Linked DNA regions of Homo sapiens: all the other regions are reported to be linked to region 3. Evidence: microRNA targets listed by miRTarBase, many of them from high-throughput screens and not tested one by one. Region 3 holds a microRNA gene; each other region holds the end of a gene's coding sequence.

Region 1 (5,565 bases), not on the chromosome of region 3:
GCAAAGGTACAGTTGACTACTCAGAGTTCTGAGTAGTCAGATAACAAGTTTAAGTAAATTAAATATTTCCTAACAGCTAAAATGTGCTTAAACTCATTCTGCCATGCAGGTAAATGCAAATGTGAAATTCTTCTAGGAGATAAATTTCATTTAGGTTTGTCTTAGTTAAGTATAATTCCAAATAATGAATCTAAGTGACTGTAACCCAATTACGGCTACAGCCTAGTAACCAAGACAAGTTTTGATTGTGATATCAAAGTGTTTTCCTTACAAAACTGGATAATACCTGGGAAACAAAGGAAAATACGGATAAACCCAATATTCATGTACAAACTTAATATTTAAAATACTATACTACCATATTTATAAATTTGGAATCTTAATGCCTAGGTATATGGAGGGAAATGCATCTGATTCTCCTAAATTAATGATAAAAGTGTCAGTGTAAAAACCATGCAAGTTACTGAATATAAAACCTATTCAGATCATTTGTGTATATTCTTTAAATTTTAATTATATTATCAATTGTTAAATGTTTCCAATTTTAAAGTTATTTAAATTGAATCACAAAACATTCCCTTTATCTGGATCTTTTAGACTTGATGCACAGTAACTGAAATAATGACTACTGTTTTAATACCCTTAGTTTGCTGCCTTTTATGAGGGTGTCACGAAGTTCTAAAATGTATTTTTTTAAAGGTTAATCTCTAACTAGTTTAGCTTGCAATTGGTTAGTGTATATTTTGTGTAGTTGTGTTCATTAGTTTGCTTCTAAGTTCTAAAATGTATTTTTTAAAGGTTAATCTCTAACTAGTTTAGCTTGCAATTGGTTAGCCTATATTTTGCGTAGTTGTGTTCATTAGTTTGCTTCTGTATTTTTTTAAAACTATTGAAAGCTTAACTTTTTCTGTTTCTCATCACTTAGTATCTTTGTATAGAACTTGAGTAATTTATTCGTTAATATGAAATGTTGGTATTATGTGACTCAGAAGATCTTGGGTTTTAACATTTCTAGCATGAGTTAAACTATAATGTACTGATGAAATTTAATTGAAATATCCTTGACTAGAAACACTGATGTTTTAAATGTTAGTGTTTTTCTTAGTTTTAGAAATTCTGGTATTAAAAAAAAAAAGAGTGTAATCATACCACATAAATTTTCTTTAGATGATGTGCAGAAGAAACTGATTGAGAATGCAAGAGTAACTGTAGGGAGAAACATTTTGATCACTGATATGCCTTAGAACTACCCAAATGAATTACATTGAGGGTAGTCAAATAAAATAGATCATCTCACCACAGTCACTGCATAGAAAGTGGTTAAGTTTAACATAAGACATGTTGGATGTTATAAAAACAAATACTGTACTGAATTTAGTCTCAGGAAAAAAATAAATTACTTTGTTGAAAACATTTGGTTTCATTTTTCTAAATTCATATGTTTCTAACCTTAAGAGTCACTCATATCAGAAAGTCAAATGAATTTCATTTAAGAACTTATACTAAGTTTTAGATTTCATTATTAACGCACAAGTAATAATGTTGGTTTATAAATCAATGCCATTCAGATATCCATGGATCTAACCAGATCTCCTTCAAAGATGAAATTTTTGCTCTATCTTTATGCTAATCCGTGTAAACCAGAATAAAAATTTTAGGGAAGCTTTTACATGATACTGGTCAGAAATGAAATACCAGTCCGTTAATAAGAACCAAACACTTAAAAAAATTCTTTGAAATATTGTTAATCATATCACCCAATAGATAATTTTTAAATTAGTCGGTTGTCCCTTTCAGTGGCATATCCTCTAACAGATGGTTCTTATGTACTTGTATTTCTGAATTACAACCTATAAAACATTGTACTTCTGAATTACAACCTATGAAAACATTATAAAACTTTTACAAAATTTGCAGTGAAACTGATAAAACTGATGCTCCCGCCATTTCTAATCTGAAAGAACTTGGTGTACTCATTCTTTTTAATGGAAAAAGCAAAATTACCTTGAGTTGTTATCAGTGTCCTTCTCACTTGAATAATCTGCTACTATAAAGTTTTAGAGGGTTGAGAATTTATGACTGAAATCCAAAATCTGGCCTAAAACTCAATCTTACCATAGAAGATATGGTTGTTTAAAATTTGCCCTTTGCAGCTGGGTGCCGGTGGATCACGCCTGTAATCCCAGCACTTTGGGAGGCTGAGGCGGGTGGATCACGAGGTCAGGAGATCGAGACCATCCTGGCTAACACGGTGAAACCCCATCTCTACTAAAAATACAAAAAATTAGCTGGGTGTGGTGGCACTCGCCTGTAGTCTCAGCTACTTGGGAGGGGGAGGCAGGAGAATCACTTGAACCCGCAAGGTGGAGGTTGCAGTGAGCCAACATGGCGCCACTGCACTCCAGCCTGGGTGACAGAGTGATCCGTTTCAAAAAACAAACAAAAAAAATATGCCCTTTGCAATACTGAACATTTTAGACGTAAAGGATTTATTAGCACCTGAGTCAAGTGGATAACTAAACTCAAAGCCTAATGAGCTGATCCTCTATTTTCTGTTTAAGCATTAGTTTGAGAGTATACTTAACTGTGACATACATAGCAGAGTCCCAGAAGAAAGAACTGACTACTAACAAATTGAAACAAGTACCCTTCAGGGGACCGTGGATATAACCTGACTCCTTCAGTGACAAAAATCAAGGTGAGAACAACCCAAAATCCCAAAATAAGGATTACTAAATTAAAATAGGCTCTATCATACCCTATCGCTACCACCACATAAAGGACTAAGACTGTAATAGTAAGGACCTCTAAGCCAATTTCCTGATGTTCCAAAAAACATGCTAATCTTTCTGATCTAATTCCTACTTCACAAAAAGGAAAATTGAGAAAGAGGATTTATGGATTCCAGGAAGAGCTTCCACTAGTGGAATATAAGTTATAGGGCTAATCAAAACAAAGCATAAAATAAAAATCAACACATTCCTAAGTAACTACTCACACATATTTCATTTCCATGGGTACGTAGAAGCAATCAAAATAAGTCAGAAGACAGCAATTTAAATAAGATTTATTTTTTTAAAGGTGGTTATTTTTATTTTTTGCAATGCCACAGTTATAGGAGTGTATGAAGAGGTAACATGTCTCCTTTTCCTTAACCATGTTTTTTTTTTTTTAACCTTCTGCACAAAGGTAAAAGTTTTTGTTAATCTCATAGTTAATGGTATAAAACAGAGATTGGCAAACCTTTCCTCCAACAGGCCAGGTAGTAAATATTTTAGATTTCACAGACCACATATTTTTTTCTTTTATAACTCTTTAAAAATGTAAAAATCATTTTTAGTTTGCACCATACAAAAACAGACTGGGCCAAATTCGGCCCGTGGGCAGTAGTTTGCCAACCCCTGGTATAAAATATCTACTTTGTCTTGTCAGAGAAATTGCTGTCCTTAGGCTTCTAGACAATCTGCTGCCTGAAGTCAAGTGGAGAAGGGCCTTATTTACAATTTAATGTGGTTTGTGACAGAAGTAGAAATGGAGAGCTTCTGCTCACTTTTGACTCTCCCAGTTTTTCCATTCACTCATTCATTCAATAAATTTGTTGAGCACCTACTATGTACACTCTTAAATATCTTGGTGTTAGCAGAAATTTCCAGTGTTTCTTCCTTAAAAGGGTGATTTCTCCAGTTTCTCCAAACCAGGAATTATTTCTTAATACTCATGTTTTATGGAAAAATCAGGATTAAAATCTCTACCAGCACACAAGAGGATACATGATTATACAAAATGAATCTAGCCAACAATGATATCCTTGCACCCAATAGTGACACAGCCTAGATGAGGAAAATATGTAACTATCTCTATTTTAAAAGATACCTCTTTTCCTCCCACAGGCTGAAACTTTCAAAAAAAAAAAAAAAATCAGATCTAGAACACCCCGCAAGTAATTTCTTCCCATTTTCCTAGTTTTGCTGCCATGTTAACATAAAATCTGGATCCAGGTAGGCCTCTTCATTAGCTTTCTATTTCAGCCATAAAACAATACTACACTTACAGCTGAATACTGACTCCAAAGCAATGTGCATGCCCACATTTTATCTCAGGGAGGGATTGATTATGTTTCTGCTCCTTCAGAATGAAAACTGTTAGCTTTCTGAATCCTATTTATCCAAGGTGAGGGAAGACTTTTTAAAGTGGCCAAAAGGAGCACAGGACTTGAGTATTAAAATATAAAGGTGGCCCCCATTCCAGATCTTTGGTACAGTCATCAACTATAATAATCTGATTGCCCACCCCACCAAAACAGCACATTTTGTAATTAGAAGTGATTTTGATTTTCCTTTTGACCATGTAAACAATAGGGGAAATGCCTTGGGAAACTACTTTGCAATGCACTCTCATTTCTCTTAAATACACAACCAGTTCTCCCTTTGATAAGTTCATGGGGGGAAAGAATAGAGTAGGCCAAGGTTATCGCTTTCGCTCCCCTCTCTGTGTCCTTTTTTTTTCCTTTTCCTTGCGCTCCTGCTTGGCTAGTTTGTCTCTCTCCCTCTGCAGCTTGTCCTGTTCCTTCTTCCTTTGGGATTCATCCCGAAGTGAGTCTCGCTCCAGTTTTCGGGCATTAAGGACATCTTCCACATTGGTGTTTCGGAACAGAACTACAGGTGAGTTAAGGGATTAGGGTACAGGTCACACAGATCACACCTACTGCTGCCTTTCCTCATTCTACTTATCCTCTCTCCACCTGCTGAGTCCTGAATCGTCTTTATCTATTCCTGGTTTTTTAAAAAAAACCCTTATGTTTATCCTTGGTCTAACAGAGAAATCCTAAAGCTATATTACAAAAGTTTTAAAATGTCCTTTGGAATAAAACTCTTATTCAGATTTACCTAAATCTGAATTTTAAAATATTTTACCAAAGAAACAAAAAAATAAGAAAACAAAATATTTCATCAAAATGAAATTTCATTCTAGAATAAGTACTTATATCATTCAATGGCAGAATATTAGAGAATCTAGGCTAGTTTTGGTGAACAGAGTAGTAATGTAACTGACTAAATGTTTATGTACTTGGCTCTGTTAAAATGCCTTAAAAGAGTTAAATAAGATGTTTAACCTTATTAAACTTTATCAATTTGCTTTTGTTCCTAGACTACTAAAGCTGAAGTGAAAACCACATTCTAATAACCATACACACTGAATCTATAAGAGATAGAAAATGAGTTTAGGCTGGGCGCAGTGGCTCATGCCTGTAATCCCAGCACTTGGGAGACTGAGGCAGGTAGATCATGAGGTCAGGAGATCGAGACCATCCTGGCTAACAGGTGAAACCCCGTCTCTACTAAAAATACAAAAAATTAGCCGGGCATGGTGGCACACACACCTGTAGTCCCAGCTACTCGGGAGGCTAAGGCAGGAGAATCACTTTAACCCAGGAGGCGGAGGCTGCAGTGAGCCGAGATCGCACCACTGCACTCCAGCCTGGGCAACAGAGCGAGACTCTGTCCCAAAAAAAAGAAAAAAAAAAGTGTTTGGTGTTTGTATTCTCTGACAAATTATAAGGTTTTT
Region 2 (5,530 bases), not on the chromosome of region 3:
AAATACGTGGGTAAATTCCTGTTCGTGGCTCTCAGCTCTGAAGGCTGTGAGACCTCTGATTTCCCACTGCACACCTCTATATTTCTATATGTGTGTCTTTAATTCCTCTAGCACCGCTGGGTTAGGGTCTCCCTGACCGAGCTGGTCTCGGCACTTTGTCTAAAATGAAAAATGTATGTGTGCATGCTTGTATGATGTCAGGATTGTGGACTTGTCCTGTCACCAGGTAGTTGCATGGTGTTGGACAGCTTTAGTTTCAATTTCAATACTAAGATATAGTGTTGGACTAATACCTCAACATTTTGTGACTGTCATATATCACAAGCATATACTTAAAAGATAAACCATTTGGCTTGAATCTCATCCTTTAGTGTAATGGTCTGTGCATCTTTCAAACCTTTGAAATCGAACTCATGTTTAATTTAATACTAAACACAATGAAGCCTTCCTACAGCAAACTCATCTTAAAGGGACTGGGGTTATTTATGCACAGAAAGTGAAGACTTCAGCACATGTGCTCCTTGTCAAATATGTATTGTATCTTTCTAAATAGATAACAGTACCACCATTAACTCCTGTAATAAAGAGTAACTGTAATGTGAATCAGTGCATACAGAAATGAAGCACTGGTATTCTTATTTCAAATTCCTATTTATTTCTCACTGATACTAGTGAGCAAAAATATACTTATTTCTTCCCAAAATTACTGGAATGTTTTCCTTTTTGATGCATTTTTTTCTCGCAAGATATATTTTCTCTGACCTTCATATGCTGAAATGGGGAGAAAACTGATGATTCTCAATTAGCAGGGCCGTGCCTCTGCAGTGGGAAGGGGGAGAAGAGGGCATCTCAGAAATTCTTAGAAGTGAAGTTTAATAATCATATCTATACTCTATTTTTATCCTAATAAAATAAAACAAAATTCTCCTAATGTATTAATAACACAAATTACAGCAACCCAAACTTGATAAAATCATGGCCAGGGAAGTTATGCAGAAAAAGGCCGTGGTAGGCATCTTCAGTGGCTTTCCTATTTCCTCACTAAAAGATCCTTGATGTTGATCAGTGGCAACATCCCAAGGCAGAGTCACAATTGGTCTGAAACTATCATGACATCTTCCCAGCCTCCCTTGCAGGGAGAAGTGACTATATGACCCAATTCTGATGGGAAATGAGGATAGAGAGGTACACAGAAGCCAGATCAGAGAAAGCCTTGGATGCCACATTAAAATATTTGAACTTTATCCTTATTCTACCCTACACCCATTCTAAATACTGTTGATATCCCTTATCTTAAAAAGAGAAAACCAAAACTTTAAATAGCTTGATTGAACTCATAGCTACTGAGTGGATGAACTATAATTTGAGCCTGGGTTTTGTTTTTGTTTGTATTTTTTGTAGTGTGTGGGATCCAAAGAACTGTCTGGTCATCACCAAGTGAGTGCAAGCTAGTTAGAAATAAAGAAATAATGAGAGTTGACTGAGTCTGTAGAGAATGGTTAATGTAACAATATATTTTAAAGATTGAGAAAGTTGGCTGGGCATGGTGGCTCACGCCTCTAATTCCAGCACTTTGGGAGGCCAAGGCTGGCGGATCACTAGGTCAGGAGATCAAGACTATCCTGAAACCCTGTCTCTACCAAAAATGCAAAGACTAACTGGGCATGGTAGCATGCGCCTGTAGTTCCAGCTACTCAGGAGGCTGAGGTGGGAGAATCGCTTGAACCCGGGAGGCCGAGACTGCGGTGACCGAGATCGCACCACTGCACTCCAGCCTGGCAACAGAGTGAGACTGTCTCAAAGTTGGCTACATCCCTGGGATGCAAGGCTGGTTCAACATATGCAAATCAATGAACGTAATCCATCACATAAACACAACCAATGACAAAAACCACATGATTATCTCAATAGATGCAGAAAAGGCCTTCGACAAAATTCAACAGCCCTTCATGCTAAAAACTCTCAATAAACTAGGTATTGATGGAATGTATCTCAACATAATAAGAGCTATTTATGACAAACCCACAGCCAATATCATACTGAATGGGCAAAAACTGGAAGCATTCCCTTTGAATACCTGCACAAGACAAGGATGCCCTCTCTCACCACTCCTATTCAACATAGTGTTGGAAGTTCTGGCCAGGGCAATCAGGCAAGAGAAAGAAATAAAGGATATTCGATTAGAAAACGAGGAAGTCAAATTGTCCCTGTTTGCAGATGACATGACTGTATACTTAGAAAACCCCATTGTCTCAGCCCAAAATCTCCTTAAGCTGTTAAGAAACTTCAGCAAAGTCTCAGGATATAAAATCAATGTGCAAAAATCACAAGCATTCCTATACACCAATGACAAACAGAGAGCCAAATCATGTGTGAACTCCCATTCACACTTGCTTCAAAGAGAATAAAATACCTAGGAATCCAACTTACAAGGGATGTGAAGGACCTCTTCAAGGAGAACTACAAACCACTGCTTAACAAAATAAAAGAGGACACAAACAAATGGAAGAACATTCCATGCTCATTGATAGGAAGAATCAATATAGTGAAAATGGCCATACTGCCCAAGATAATTTATAGATTCAATGCTATCCCCATTAAGCTACCAATGACTTTCTTCACAGAATTGGAAAAAACTACTTTAAAGTTCATATGGAACCAAAAAAGAGCCCGCATCGCCAAGACAATCCTAAGCAAAAGGAAAAAAGCTGGAGGCAGCACGCCACCTGACTTCAAACTATTCTACAAAGCTACAGTAACCAAAACAGCATGGTACTGGTACCAAAACAGATATATAGACCAATGGAACAAAACAGAGGCCTCAGAAATAACACCACACATCTACAACCATCTGATCTTTGACAAACCTGACAAAAACAAGCAATGGGGAAAGGATTCCCCATTTATAAATGGTGCCAGGAAAAGTGGCTAGCCATATGTAGAATGCTGAAACTAGACCTCTTCCTTACACCTTATACAAAAATTAATTCAAGATGGATTAAAGACTTAAATGTTAGACCTAAAACCACAAAAATCCTAGAAGAAAACCTAGGCAATACCATTCAGGACATAAGCATGGGCAAGGACTTCATGACTAAAACATCAAAAGCAATGGCAACAAAAGCCAAAATAGACAAATGGGATCTAATTAAACTAAAGAGCTTCTGCATGGCAAAAGAAACTACCATCAGAGTGAACAGGCAACCTACAGAATGGGAGAAAATTTTTGCGATCTACTCATCTGACAAAGGGCTAATATCCAGAATCTACAAAGAACTCAAACAAATTTACAAGAGAAAAACAAACAACCCCATCAAAAAGTGGGCAAAGGATATGAACAGACACTTCTCAAAAGAAGACTTCTATGTAGCCAACAGACACATGAAAAAATGCTCATTATCACTGGTCATCAGAGAAATGCAAATCAAAACCACAATGAGATACCATCTCACACCAGTTAGAATGGTGATCATTAAAAAGTCAGGAAACAATAGATGCTGGATAGGATATGGAGAAATAGGAACACTTTTACACTGTTGGTGGGACTGTAAACTAGTTCAACCATTGTGGAAGACAGTGTGGTGATTCCTCAAGGATCTAGAACTAGAAATACCATTTGACCCAGTGATCCCATTACTGGGTATATACCCAAAGGATTATAAATCATGCTACTATAAAGACACATGCACATTTATGCTTATTGCGGCACTATTCACAATAGTAAAGACTTGGAACCAACCCAAATGTCCATCAATGATAGACTGGATTAAGAAAATGTGGCACATATACACAATGGAATACTATGCAGCCATAAAAAAGGATGAGTTCATGTCGTTTACAGGGACATGGATGAAGCTGGAAGCCATCATTCTCAGCAAACTATCACAAAGATAGAAAACCAAACATTGAATGTTCTCACTCATAGGTGGGAATTGAACAATGAGATCACTTGGATACAGGGCTGGGAACATCACACACCAGGGTCTGTCGGGGGTGGGGGGCTGGGGGAGGGATAGCATTAGGAGAAATACCTAATGCAAATGATGAGTTGATGGGTGCAGCAAACCAACATGGCACATGCATAACTATGTATCAAACCTGCACATGGTACACATGTACCCTAGAACTTAAAGTATATATAAAAAAAAGATTGAGATGGTTGTGTGTAATCTTTTTATTAATAAGCAAAAGATTGTTCAGTACATAATTTAAATTCCAGCATTGAAAGCAGCCTCAAGAGATCACACAATTCAGATCTCCTTCTGTGCTTTCCAAAGATAGGTCCCCTGGATTCCACATGATTGAAGTAATTGCTTATTTCTGTGATTTTAGACCACTGGTTTGACAAAAACAAAATGAACCACGAGGGGGGAGAAAGAAACCAGAAACCCTATTTGTAACAAAGTCTCAACAATGAGATACAATGGTATTAGATACACGCCAACACACACACACACACACACACACACACACACACACACTCAACAAAATACACAAATAATCCTAGATCTTGTAGCGAATTGTTGATTTATTCATTGTGACTGCAGCTCCTAGTAATGCTATTATTTGCAGGTGGTGAGTGTTGGTATGGGATGGTATGGAGCAACATTTTCCAAATTGTGGTTGTGATCAATATGTTTTTTATAATTAAAGACGGAAAAACATCACAGTGCATAATATATAAGGTCAATGTCTTGTGATACTTGATGTATGTATGTATCACACACACACATACACACCTACACACAAATACATAAACATACACAATGAATTCCACAGATATTGGATTGTGATGTAATCTTTATTTCTTACTCTGAGCTCCAGTTAGAAAAGTTTGACAATCATTGTTATAGAGCTATGTTCAGAAAGTGGAGACTTTCTGACTCACTGTGAGCTCTGCTGTATCTATGCGCTCCCTGGAGAGGGAGCAACTTGCTAAGGTACAGTCCTGTCCATTGGCATGGATATTTATTGTTCCACATGTTGGGAAAACCATGTGCAATAAAAATCAAACATATGAAACAATGGCTGTCATTGTACCACAGTATACATTGTATCTTGGTGAAGGTTCTTAAATTACTCCTTGGAGTTTCCTAATTCACTTCAGGAAGGATTTGTTGTGTTCCGTCTTTATGCTGTCACTTGCAAACCTTGGGAATAAACATAAAAAGAAATTAATGGAGAATTCCAATTCTCATTTTATTAAATCTTTACATCAACAACAGTAAATCTAAGGATGTTTAAATTAGAGGGATTCTGGAGCCAAAAATGCTGGTTTCCTGTAAAGAACTAAATTGAGTCCAAGTCCCATTCTTTTAATCCCTGCATTAAATTTGAAGCATACCTTAAAATATCAGATAGATATCCAATATCACTTGTAGTTCGTATAGTAATCCTTGACTTCAGAGAATGATATAGTTTGAAGACTAGAATAAAACCACAAAGGGTAGTTGTCTGCAGTATAATCCTTGTTTTGGAGTGTTATCCTTGATGTGGGGAAAGTATTGTTACTTTAATCCCTTTTCTTAAA
Region 3 (5,565 bases):
AGCCTCAAAGTTCGACGCACACAACCCCAAGCCAGACCCGGAGAGTTTAAAGCATCAAGTCTCCAGATTGTCTCTGGCGTCCTGGAGGGACGATCGCTTCATCCCTATCTCTCCTGGCGCAGGTGGCAGCGTCCTGCCGCTCCGGTTGCTCCCCACGCGCGCTTGAGCGGGGTTTTTATAGCCAAGCTGCGCCGTTCACGTGCTCCTCGCCGCGTGGTCCCGGAACCTTTCTGGGAGCGGATCTCCGCGGGTAGTTCCTCCGAGGCCTCCAAGGTTCCTAGGGGCCTTTCTGCTCCCATCAAGGCGCACTCACCGGCTGTTCTGCTCGCCTGACAGCTCCCGGGCCCGTCGGCCGCCAGGTTGCTGGAGCCCCGCGCGGCCGGGTGCGCACCTGGGCCGGGCGGGAGGGTGTGGGTTCTCTGGAGCGCCCCCCAGCGCAACGTTACGCAAAGTGCAGGTGGCCGTGGATTGGGACCGGGGTGCGAGAAATCGGAGCTGGCTGTGGGCAGCAGCTTCTTGTGTGCGCTTCAGCCGCTCTTCAAAGTCAGTGCAACGCGTAGGTCAGCTCCACCTGAAGTTGATCCAGGGCGGCCACAGAGGACGCGGGGCCGTCCTCGGGTTCCGGGCTCAAGGTGGACGGCGCAGGGGTCCAGTCCACGTCCTAGGTGACATGAGACGCAGAGGGACCCAGATGTAAAATCGCCGTCTCCCTTCCACTCCACTGCACCCATGGAAATACTGCATAAGCCAGGACAGGAACGAAGACCTCGCAAAATAAAGTGTAATTGTGTTGGGGGCCAACGGCGCAGGGAGAAGGGAGTGTTTGTAGCCTTAATTGCAGTTTAGTCAATAAATCACTTATTCTGGGCTTCTGGGCAGGAACACCTGTCTTTTAGGGAAGAAGAACAGTTTTTCCAAATCTCTGAGATTGGGGAAGGGGTGGGCGGGCACAGGGTGAGGCAGTTCAGACGCAAGTGTTCTCTTCTTGCCTGGATGGTCCTAACCTAAGCAGCCCGGCCTCCTCTGGGCCTGCACTTCCTCTGGGGCCTGCTGGTGGCAGTGAAGTCCTATGCACTGCTGTTCATTTTTTTACCCCACCCCAGCCCCAACACACACGTTCTGGGGTAACCTCTTTGGAAGAATTGGGTCTCTAGGTTTGTAAGGCTGCCTCTCCACTCCTGAGAACCAGGGGGCAGACAGCAGCAGTTCTTACTTTGTGATAATTTGATGCAACCCGTAAAGAAGGCTTGAACATACCCAGTTATTTAATTGATTCAATTTCTTCACTCCAGAGTCATTCTCGGGTGGAAATGTTCTCAGCAGGAAGGGGGTCCCTGAAAGATCCTCTATTGTCTCAAGAGGTATGGACTGAGAGCTGTGGAAAGGTCATGAATATGCGGTATTTATTGCATATCATCGTGTATGAATATACAGTATCTATTACTGGAGAAAAGAGCTAGGATCACTTTATGCCTGATCTCAATATTGTTTATAAAAGAGTGATTAGAAGTTGCCAGATTGTCAGGGACCTGCCTTCCTGCCTTTCTTTTTTCTCTTACTTCTTTGTTTGTTTCTCTCTTCTCAGAAATAGGATTAGTGTTTGTGTCTTCTGACCTTTGCTTCAGATCTCAAAGTGTTGCATTTTCTTTGGATGACTTTGGGATTTTTGGCAGCCTCTATAACCTAATTAACTGTTCTAGACAGGCCGAAGTTTAGCATCTGCCAGTGTCACTGCAGACCAAGGCTGCAGAGGAGAGAGAATTTCACATTGTCTGTGGGCCACGCTGTAAAAGGCTCTTTGCACAGCCAGCTTTGCCTCAGCTAGAGAGGCTGCTGTCTTTGGAGTATTCTACCTAAGAAGGATACCAATTACTCACCTCCCTCAAAACACACACACATACACACACACACACACACACACACACACACACACGCATGTACATGCAAAAACAATCTTCTTCCACATTCTTCAGCTTGCAAGCATCTGACATCCTAACACCAGATATTGATTTCTTAGCACACAAATACCAATAAAGGAGGTGTCACCTATGGTGATAACACTTTATTATAAATTATTTAGATTTATTTCTTAACCTGAGGAACCAGAAAGAAAGAATTAGAGAGAGAGAGACAAATGAGAGGGAGAGGGCATGATTGTGGAAGGCTGACCCTGATTTTCAAGACAACTTTGTTTTTTTTATATCCGATTAAAATATTTTCTAAACGTTTTCTTCTTGTCCATAAATACTGGGAGTTTTTGAACCATGACAGGAGCCGTGATACCTGGATCCTGGCTCTACCATTAATGAGTTATGTGACCTTGAACAAGTCATTTAACTTTTTTGAGGCTTGGTTTTCTTATGTGTAAAATGTAATAACATTTCTTATGTTTAAAACACTTTACACAAGAAAACCAAGGCTCAAAAAATGAAATGACTCAAACCAAGTCAAATGACTCAAAACCAAGACTCAAAACAAGTGAAATGACTTGTTCAAGGTCACATAATGAGTTAATGGCAGAGCCAGGATCCAGGTATCACAGCTTCTGTTCCAGTGCTTCTTGCAACATACCACCTCTATTTTCTAATTTTGCTCAGGTCTGGCCCTTGAGGACATCTTTGTTAACCTGGACAGTGGGTGCTCAGGCCTGTGTTCACAGGTGTGGAAGGCTGGATATCATTTCTGCTTTCTAGATAGGAAAGAAGATCATTGTCTTCATGATCACACAGGACTAGACTCTTCCAACTTCTAGGTTGTTGATCTGATGACAAACACTTCCAGATTCTGTGTTTCTTTTGGGTCCTGCTCTTTCTTCATGAGACCACAGGTAAATCTGTACCATCCCAGACATGGGCTGGAGAATTTAAAGCATCTAGAAATGGGAAGGTGAAAGTACATGAAAAAATGAGCCTGGGACCAAGACTGTGATCAAAAACAAGCATTCCCCTCTCCATCCTCTCACGCTACCACCAATTAGTAGGCTAGACAGGTGCCTTATCCTTATAAAACAATGGGAGCTAGCTCTTTATAAAACAAGGGTGCCCAAAGGTAAAATTACCACTAGCTTCATTCTACTCACTGAGCTAGAAGGAGCCTTGTGATCATGAAATGAAACCCCCTTTAATATGTAGGTGATGCCCAAATTGTAATTTTATTAAATGAGTGGAAAGAAAATTACTTCCTAATAATACTGATATATGAGGATTTCCCATATTCTTGACCTGCTGTTAGGCTTTTAATAGGCATCTCATTTAATCGCACTACATCGAGGGTCTGGGCCCAGCACCTCCTATCTCCAAGTCTGACATCCCTTCTTGGACACTACTGTTCCTGTATATCTTTTGTTATGTGCATTCATTACCTTTTGTAACATATGTGCACTTTGCTTGCTCCGAAGTCTATGGTATGCACATGTACCTCACCTACTTCCCTTCACTGTGATGGCTGATGATTTTTCCCCCAGCTTCGTGGCTATGTCACATGTCCAGTTCATTCCTCGTAGGTGCTGGAGGTAGTGATCAAAAGGCACAAAACTAGAGTCCCTGTGACTGACTGTGACCCAGCAGAAAGAGTGCCCATCACCCAACCTGTATTTGCCTGCAGGTGCATTCCCATGTGTGTACATCAAATATCCTGGTCAGGAAACCTGTGGATCATTCTTCCATGAAATAAATTTGTTCTGTTATGGATAGAAGTGAAATAGAGCCCCTAGTGTCATGAAGAAGACCACATTAGCACATCATGCCACTCTTACTATTTTAGGGACTCCACCCAGTGAAGTCAGTGATGTGCTGTTCTTGCTTCCCTAGCTTGAAGAAGAGTATCAGACTTAATATTACATTCATACAGTGGCTCTATGATTTGGGTGATAAATAATTGAATCTGCTTTGCTAATGTGAGAAATAGATTATTCAGGGTCACTCAAGCCAGGGTTCCACTTTTCAAAGTTCTAGGTGGTAAGCTAGATCATTAGGAACCCACTTATTTGTTTACAAAATGGAAATTTTCAGTCTTTGTGAGAATTTGTCAGCATAACAATTTGCCAACAGAGACTGTTGATTCAGAGGTGTCTGTGGCATGATAGAATTCACAGCAGCACAGTTTTAAATAAAGTTACACCTTTCAGAAAGCGCTCTGATGTTTTCATGACTCAGAAATTCTAACTTTACCTCCACCCCCTTCCAAATCTGCGTAATGTATTTTTTGAGCAGCCTTCCTCTTACAACCTTCTAAACACATTGCTATGAGAGCACTATGCATGCCACACAAAGTAGAAGAAAGTTAAAGAAGTTTGAAGTAAAAGTTTGTAGATTATTTTGTATTTCTAAATTAAATATTTTATTTTCATTTTGTAATTGCCAAGGTTGTTTTTCTTTTTTTCTCCTTCATGACAATCTCAAATACAGTACCTTACAAAACCCTCCTCTTGCTTGTTTCATCATCTGATACTTATTTGGAGAGTTGCTTTTTACAAAGCACTTTCATACATGTTAGCTCATTTACTTTTAGTCTAACCTTCTAAAATGGGTTCTGCATTAACATTATTTCCCTCTCCTCTCCAATTTTTAATGTGAAGCTCGAGTGATTTTAGTGGCATGTTTAGGTTCACTCAGTTGCTGGATAGCAGAGCCAATGTCAAAACTAGATCTCCGAACATGAAGCCATAGATCATTTATAATATACCACGTGGCTGCCAACGTATAACAAGATCCATTTAGCCAAATTGATTAAACATCATTTGCACTTCTCTATAAAATTTATACTGGTGGGTAGGCAAACCAAATAATATGGTGTATAAAACACTCTACTTGGATGGCAATGTTAGCTACATTGCCTATTTACATTGACTCATATTTTTATTGAGCAGAAGCTAACTTCCACATCTTTTAATTCTGCTAACAACTCAGTCTTGTAGATAAGTACAAGAGGCTGAGACTTTAAATGACTTGTCCAAATTCAGATAGCTAATAAGTTGGCAAAGCTAGAATGTGAACCAGATTTATCTCACCCTTATGCTAGATGGAGTCTTTTCATCATGTAACACTAAATCCACATGAATAAGAAGGAAATCTTCCCTTTACAGTACTCTATATTGACATGGCCCAAATATCTTAAATATATTGTCCAGGTCAATCATTGTTTTCTTATTTTTTAAGTGCTTGTACTTAGCTAGAATAGTATGAAGCTTGAATGTATTTTGAATCTGCTTTTCTTTTCAAAATACCTTAATGGGATAAAGTGTTTTTATTTGCATATTTTTGCAATTTGCATATTTTCTGCAAAAATTCAATATAGATGATGATTCTATAACAGTCTCTCTAAATATATTTATTTGGATTCTACTTTCTGAAAAACTACTATGACTTTGCCATCTTCCTTTTCTCACCATTCTTATAGTTATGCTTTATGTTTATTATTTAATAAGATTTATTTCTTCACCAAATAAGAGTCTCCATCACAATCCTTTAGCCTGAATTAGTTATAGAGTTGCACTATGCATCTCCTTGGGTTACCCCTTGTAAATGTAAATTATCTTATCGCCTAAATTTAGAAAGCCATATGCAG
Region 4 (5,565 bases), not on the chromosome of region 3:
GTTACAAAAACAATCAATTGCAATTTTCAACAAGTTTGGTCATAACTTAGGCCATTGCTATATTTATTGAAGTCCATTTTTATAAATGTTTCTGCTATTTCACGTTGGATTTATGCTATAAAAATTGTTTTAAGTTAGGCAAGTAGTCTTAACACTTATACATGAAATTAAATATAGAGTGTTTATCATTTTCTTTGCCTTTTTAACTGAACACAATAAAGAAATGGAGACACTGGCCTTTTGGTAGTTTTAAAGAAACTCCTAAGGAATGCTTCATTTTCAAGTTACTCTATATTTATTTTTTAAATTTGGGTAGTCACCCTTGAAGAGTTGATCTTTGATTGTTAATTAAATTGTAATGTTTTGACTACAATAACATTTTATAAATAAATTTCCATTTATGAATGAAAACTGGCATAGGTAGTTAGTACAATTAATTTTCTAAATGTAAAATACTAGGTAATAGGGAAAATTAAGAATGTCACAGCAAAAAATGTTGAACTCCTTGTGTTAATTTCCTCAGGAAAGTTACCAATACAGCTTTGCATTATCAGAAACATATTTGCTGAATATTTTTAACTGCCTCATCAGAAAAATAGCATTACCATTATCTTCACATCACAGATTGTTTGGAAGATTCTGTGAGATGATGAAAAGAGAAATAATTTCAAAATTATAAATTTCTTTATTGATCTCAGTTGTCATTGTTGTTGACTATTGCTAATCTATTATTAAGATTCATTTATAATTTTAATTTGATTCATAACTACTTGAATTTTTCTTTAACTTTTTTTTGAAGTAATGACAGACTCACAGGAGTACCAAAATAGTTCTACTGGGTGTTTACATTTCCAAATTCTATAGTGTTTTCTTTCCTTTTACTCTTTGATCATCTCCTTCAAGTAAAATTACTTAAATTCACAAACTCATCTATCTGAAGACCTTATTTTCATTGATTATCTGTTGGCTTTGCTTTTTGTTATGCTGGTCAGAAAAGCAGAATGCTTAATTTATATTTTATTTCTACTTTTTTCTCTTTCTTTAGAGTAAATGAGAGGAGACATACAAAGCTGCTCTGAAGGACCATCAGGTCCGGACTCATGGAAGTGATGACTCTAAACAGTGCAATGAACAATTTATTTATGTACTATTAAAAGAACTGTAAATGCAATGTAAAGACACACAGCCACACATATCCCACAGATATTTTCATTGTGTTCTTCTCTTAAGTACACCACCCACCTTAACTCTTTCTTGTCAGGAGTATATAAAAAAGAAAGAAAACAAAACTCGCCCTACAGGAAGAAAAGGATTCTCCTCTGTATATAATTTCTTTTGTGCATTGCTATGCAAGCTCACTCTTTTTAGCTCTGCTCATATTATTGTCTGTTCTTATTGGTCTGTTGTACTATATGTGAATTAATAGGCTGTGGTGCCATATATTAACTTTTAATTGTGTAACTTTTATGTTTAAATTTTGCACTGCAATTTTATTTGGTGATAAGCACAAATCTCTACTCCTCATGACATGAAGAAAAAGACTGAATGTGAAGGGAGTTTCTGTACTGTAAGCTAGATTGGATAATGATGGCTGTAACAAATCATGTTAGATGGTTTTCAGTTGGGGTGTAGAAATAGGAAGATGCAAAGGAACAATGGTGTTGGCAAAGTCTTCTTTGAATATCAGGGACTGAGTCAATAAAAAAAATAGTAGAAAGGTGGCTTTTACTATTGACAAAAGCCGGGGTCAAAAAAAGTAGTTTAAGTCTTAAGACTGAATATGCATTAAAGTATGCAGGTAGCAAAGATGTAATAAATTTGCTTAAAAAAAGAAATTAAAGTTTTATTTAGAATCAATTTTACCTGTCATTGTAATTGACCCATCTGAGAATTACAATAAGCAAGAGGAAATTAAGGTGTTTTGCAAGAGCTGTATTTATATTACAGTTTTTTAAAAACATTTTCTGAATTATCGTAATTAAGCTCTCCAACTCGTTAAGTCAGAATATAATATGAAGTTCCCCAAGGAAACGAACAAAATGAACTCTAGAATATCTAGCAAATAGTTAAAGAAGCAATTTATTATTAGGGCATACTCGGGCTGTTTCCAAATATAAACTCTATTGCAATATCTTATTTCATCTTTCTAATACATGTACAGTGCACACTAGAGGATAGAGCTGCATCACTTAAATTCATGACTTAAAAAATAATACAGTTTATATACAACTTGTTTTTTATTTGATTAAGAAGTGAAGTTTACGCCACCCAATGTATAGCCAAATTGTACGTGCTTAAAAAACAGTGCCGAGAGTATGTTCAGTTCGCAGTAAGTAGATTTATTGGAATAAATATTCTATGGTACATTCTCAGAAATTGGCTTCCAACTAAAATACGTTTGACCCATTTTGAATAAGGAAATTGAAAAGAAAAATTTAAAAGGAGAAAAAAATGCATGTTTATAAACTTTTTAAATAAAACCAGACCTTGTAAGTGGACATTAATAATTGTCCTGCCTCATTTGTTTTCACGACTTTGACAACAAGAAGTTCCTGAACATTAGTCATGTATGCTCAGAATAAATGTGACTTTGAAATATATGTTAGCTACTGTACATGTATAGTCAGTCAAGTAGAAGAGGACCTTCCTGAAATTCCCACTTGTGACATTTTCCCATGGGTTTCCTACACAATCTTAAATTTTATTTCTGTCTATACTTTCTCAAATTTTTCCTATGATAAGTTCAGTTGTTGGTACTCTTCTAAAAATATTCAACGTGATTAGGATCAGTTCTAAAATACGGGACCCCTTTGAGTGACAATTCGCACTCCATGCATTATTGGCTCAGTAGCCAATTTTTGTCACGTCGTTATAACAAGGAGATGACATAATTAAACATTTCCATCCTTTCTATTCCCTGAGACTGCATCAGCACAGGCAAGTATAGAATGTAATGTTCTTCATGGGCCCCACCAGCTTTTTGGTGCCATGTAATTTATTTCTTCGCTGAAGAGAAAAAGAATTCTGAGACACAGTTATTAAACCCTTTATCAACTTTCTACCATCAGTGCCTGAATTCTAATGCAGTGTGATTTCTCTGGGACAAAGAGACTGAGGAAGATGAAAAGTTTCTTCAAAGAGTGAATACATACTTATTCACAACTCTAGGATGTGAGGACTTTAAATATCTCTTTATGAAGTTCCCTGCCTAACCTCTTTCTATTTAAAGGCAAACAAATTTCGAAGAGGTTTTGTGTTCCCTCTTTATGTTTCTCTATGACCCAGTTTAGTCTAAAACCTTAGTTCATTACATATACAACACATAGCCTTTGATCCCTGGTAACTGGCAGGTGTTGGTGATTAATAAACCAAGGCTTCAAAGTGAAGTATGTGTGTGCAGATGACTTTTGGAATAACGTGGGCATAGCATCATACCTTCCTGATTGTCTTCAGCATATAAAAATTAACTGTTGTAGTTAAAATTATGTCAGTGCAGAGCTTGTGGTTACTTGGAATGTTCTTTCAGAATAGTCCATGTTGCCTATTAAACCTAGTTTTAAACACATTGGGCAGTCAATTTATGCACCCAAAATATCACCCTCAGGTAGATTGAGGGCAAGATAAAATGCTGTATGTAGCTATACAAAGGAATTCAGAAACATTACTGGAAAGCAAAGCCTTTGTCAGCTTGCTACTGACAAAGTAGTAAAAAGCTACTAATCAGTGTTGAGTCAGATGTCAACAGAAAAATACAAATACCTATGAGAGCCACAGCAGTTTCTCGTTTCATAGCCGATTCAATGAATATGATTAGAAATTCACTGAGCTCACTCTTGCAGGTTTAAATGGAGGCCTGCATAAGGACTGCAAGAGGAAATCTGGGTGGGAGAGAATGTAATCTGATCTTGCACTCATAGGCAATGCTGCAATGCAATCATGTCCAATACAAGCACAGCTTCATTCATAACAGGAAACGTCTTCTTTGGGAAAATAGCTCTATTGGTGCCCAAACTCAGGTATGCCAGTGTATGCAGGTGGAGTCGCCCTACCCCTCTTCCAAACATGTCCTGTGAGATTTTTAAAATAAGATGGGATAGTACAGGGGCATGAAAAGAATTGATTCCTTCACAGGATTTGAATCCAGTTCAAGGGAGAATGTAGAAAATTCAAAACCAACATATAAGGTATCACACAACCAAGAAAAGTAAAACCATTGCAAGTTTACTTGCGTTGAGTACAAAACAGATTTAATGGTGTTCTATGTCATAGTTTAATGCTCTGGGTATTTAAATATGTTTTCAACAGGATTTGAGTTGAAAGTTTGTAATGTGCTTTGATGGAACACCTCTCAATTTCTATTCAATAAACTTATGTAATTGTCCATTGACAATATAATGATAACAGTACCATTGAACTCTAAACTGTGGTTTATCTTCACTACTGGGAAGCAACTGTGCATCAGTATTAAAGATATGCAGAAACATAATATTCACTAATTTGTTCATCTGCTTCTGTATATTGTTTATGGAATTACATGGCAAGAACTGTTCTAAAGCAACATGTCTTTCCACATTATTTTAGAGGTGAAATTACTTTTGTTTTGCTTCTCTATAATGTGTACTTCAAATGAAACACCATACTTTTTTCTAAAAAAAGATGTTCAATTTACTAATTTTTTTAAATCTCATAATTTAAAAAGCATTTGTTGTGATTTTAAAGTGTTGCAAGAAAAGGGATTTTGTGGCCGTGGGTAGACTTTTTATACTTTGTTTTATAGATGGATTTTTTTTAACTGTAGTTTGTTTAAGTCACCAAGCAGCATCCAAAATCTTAATGTGTTTCATTTGATGTTGTTAGATCAGAGAAGAAATTGGCATAAAATCGGTTAATAGTATTGTCAAAGAATTGTGTATTGTGTACTCACTGGGAAAAAATAAAATATATTCACATTTCAAATTTGTAGAAAAGCCATTTATGTAAAACAAACCTGTTTGTAGACATGCTAAAAAAAGACCAGGTAGCCACTTTTAGAACTCTGCATTAATATTTTGTGACTAAATGCATAATCTCAGTTTTCTCACTCAGTTATGGTTTGAATAGTGATAAATAGGAACTGGTGTTGACTTTTAGTAGTGACTAACAGACGCTGATAAAGAATACAGCAAGCATTTGAAATACAGACCCCATTCTATCAGCACTGCTACTTTCCCCATACCATGAAGACCTTTAGATAGATTTAAAACAAATATCTTATTTTTGAAAGTATAAGTAAATATGAAAATTGAGAGAAAATGAATTTTTCTCAATTGCTTTAGAAGAAATAATTATGAATTTCTTTTATTTTGGATGTTTTTATACTGGATGTTGAAAAGTTATCTCAGGGACTGAGTAGAAAAGAAAAATGCCCCATTTTATTATATTTCATAAATATTGCATTCTTTTTCACTGCTAAGTACAACTATAGGCTCAATTTTTTTTTCCAAAAATAAAGAGAGGCAGTTTCTGTATTCTTTAAAATAATAATACTAGTGACAGAAAAAAGGAAAAAGATTATGGTTAAATCCT

The links. Region 3 holds the annotated microRNA hsa-miR-4801 (UACACAAGAAAACCAAGGCUCA, at 2,402-2,423, shown strand). A microRNA usually pairs through its seed, bases 2 to 8, with sites in the 3' UTR of a target mRNA and lowers its output. Matches are read on the target gene's strand: a 7mer-m8 pairs with bases 2 to 8, a 7mer-A1 pairs with bases 2 to 7 and ends in A, and an 8mer does both.
Region 1: miRTarBase lists CCDC43 as a target of hsa-miR-4801. Seed matches in the 3' UTR shown: 7mer-A1 at 4,409-4,415 and 7mer-m8 at 3,757-3,763.
Region 2: the mRNA of NMRK1 is a reported target of hsa-miR-4801. Seed matches in the 3' UTR shown: 7mer-A1 at 4,761-4,767 and 7mer-A1 at 4,491-4,497.
Region 4: the mRNA of ROBO2 is a reported target of hsa-miR-4801. Seed matches in the 3' UTR shown: 7mer-A1 at 1,454-1,460, 7mer-A1 at 4,906-4,912 and 7mer-A1 at 4,913-4,919.

What each region holds. Positions count from the first base shown.
Region 1 is chr17:44,674,389-44,679,953 of GRCh38, forward strand. CCDC43 (coiled-coil domain containing 43) reads right to left here. Exons shown (of 5, transcript NM_144609.3): 5 at 3,052-4,655. The coding sequence ends at 4,468. It overlaps MEIOC (meiosis specific with coiled-coil domain), which reads left to right. Exons shown (of 8, transcript NM_001145080.3): 8 at 1-1,413. It overlaps LOC105371792 (a long non-coding RNA gene), which reads left to right and starts at 4,576. Exons shown (of 4, transcript XR_007065769.1): 1 at 4,576-4,661.
Region 2 is chr9:75,056,418-75,061,947 of GRCh38, forward strand. NMRK1 (nicotinamide riboside kinase 1) reads right to left here. Exons shown (of 9, transcript NM_017881.3): 9 at 4,160-5,150. The coding sequence ends at 5,131. Among named protein-coding and RNA genes, the nearest start is that of NMRK1, 29 kb to the right of the region's middle.
Region 3 is chr4:37,238,769-37,244,333 of GRCh38, reverse strand. It overlaps MIR4801 (microRNA 4801), which reads left to right and starts at 2,343; the gene lies at 2,343-2,424.
Region 4 is chr3:77,645,009-77,650,573 of GRCh38, forward strand. It overlaps ROBO2 (roundabout guidance receptor 2), which reads left to right. Exons shown (of 28, transcript NM_001395656.1): 28 at 1,046-4,956. The coding sequence ends at 1,047. Among named protein-coding and RNA genes, the nearest start is that of LINC02077, 400 kb to the right of the region's middle.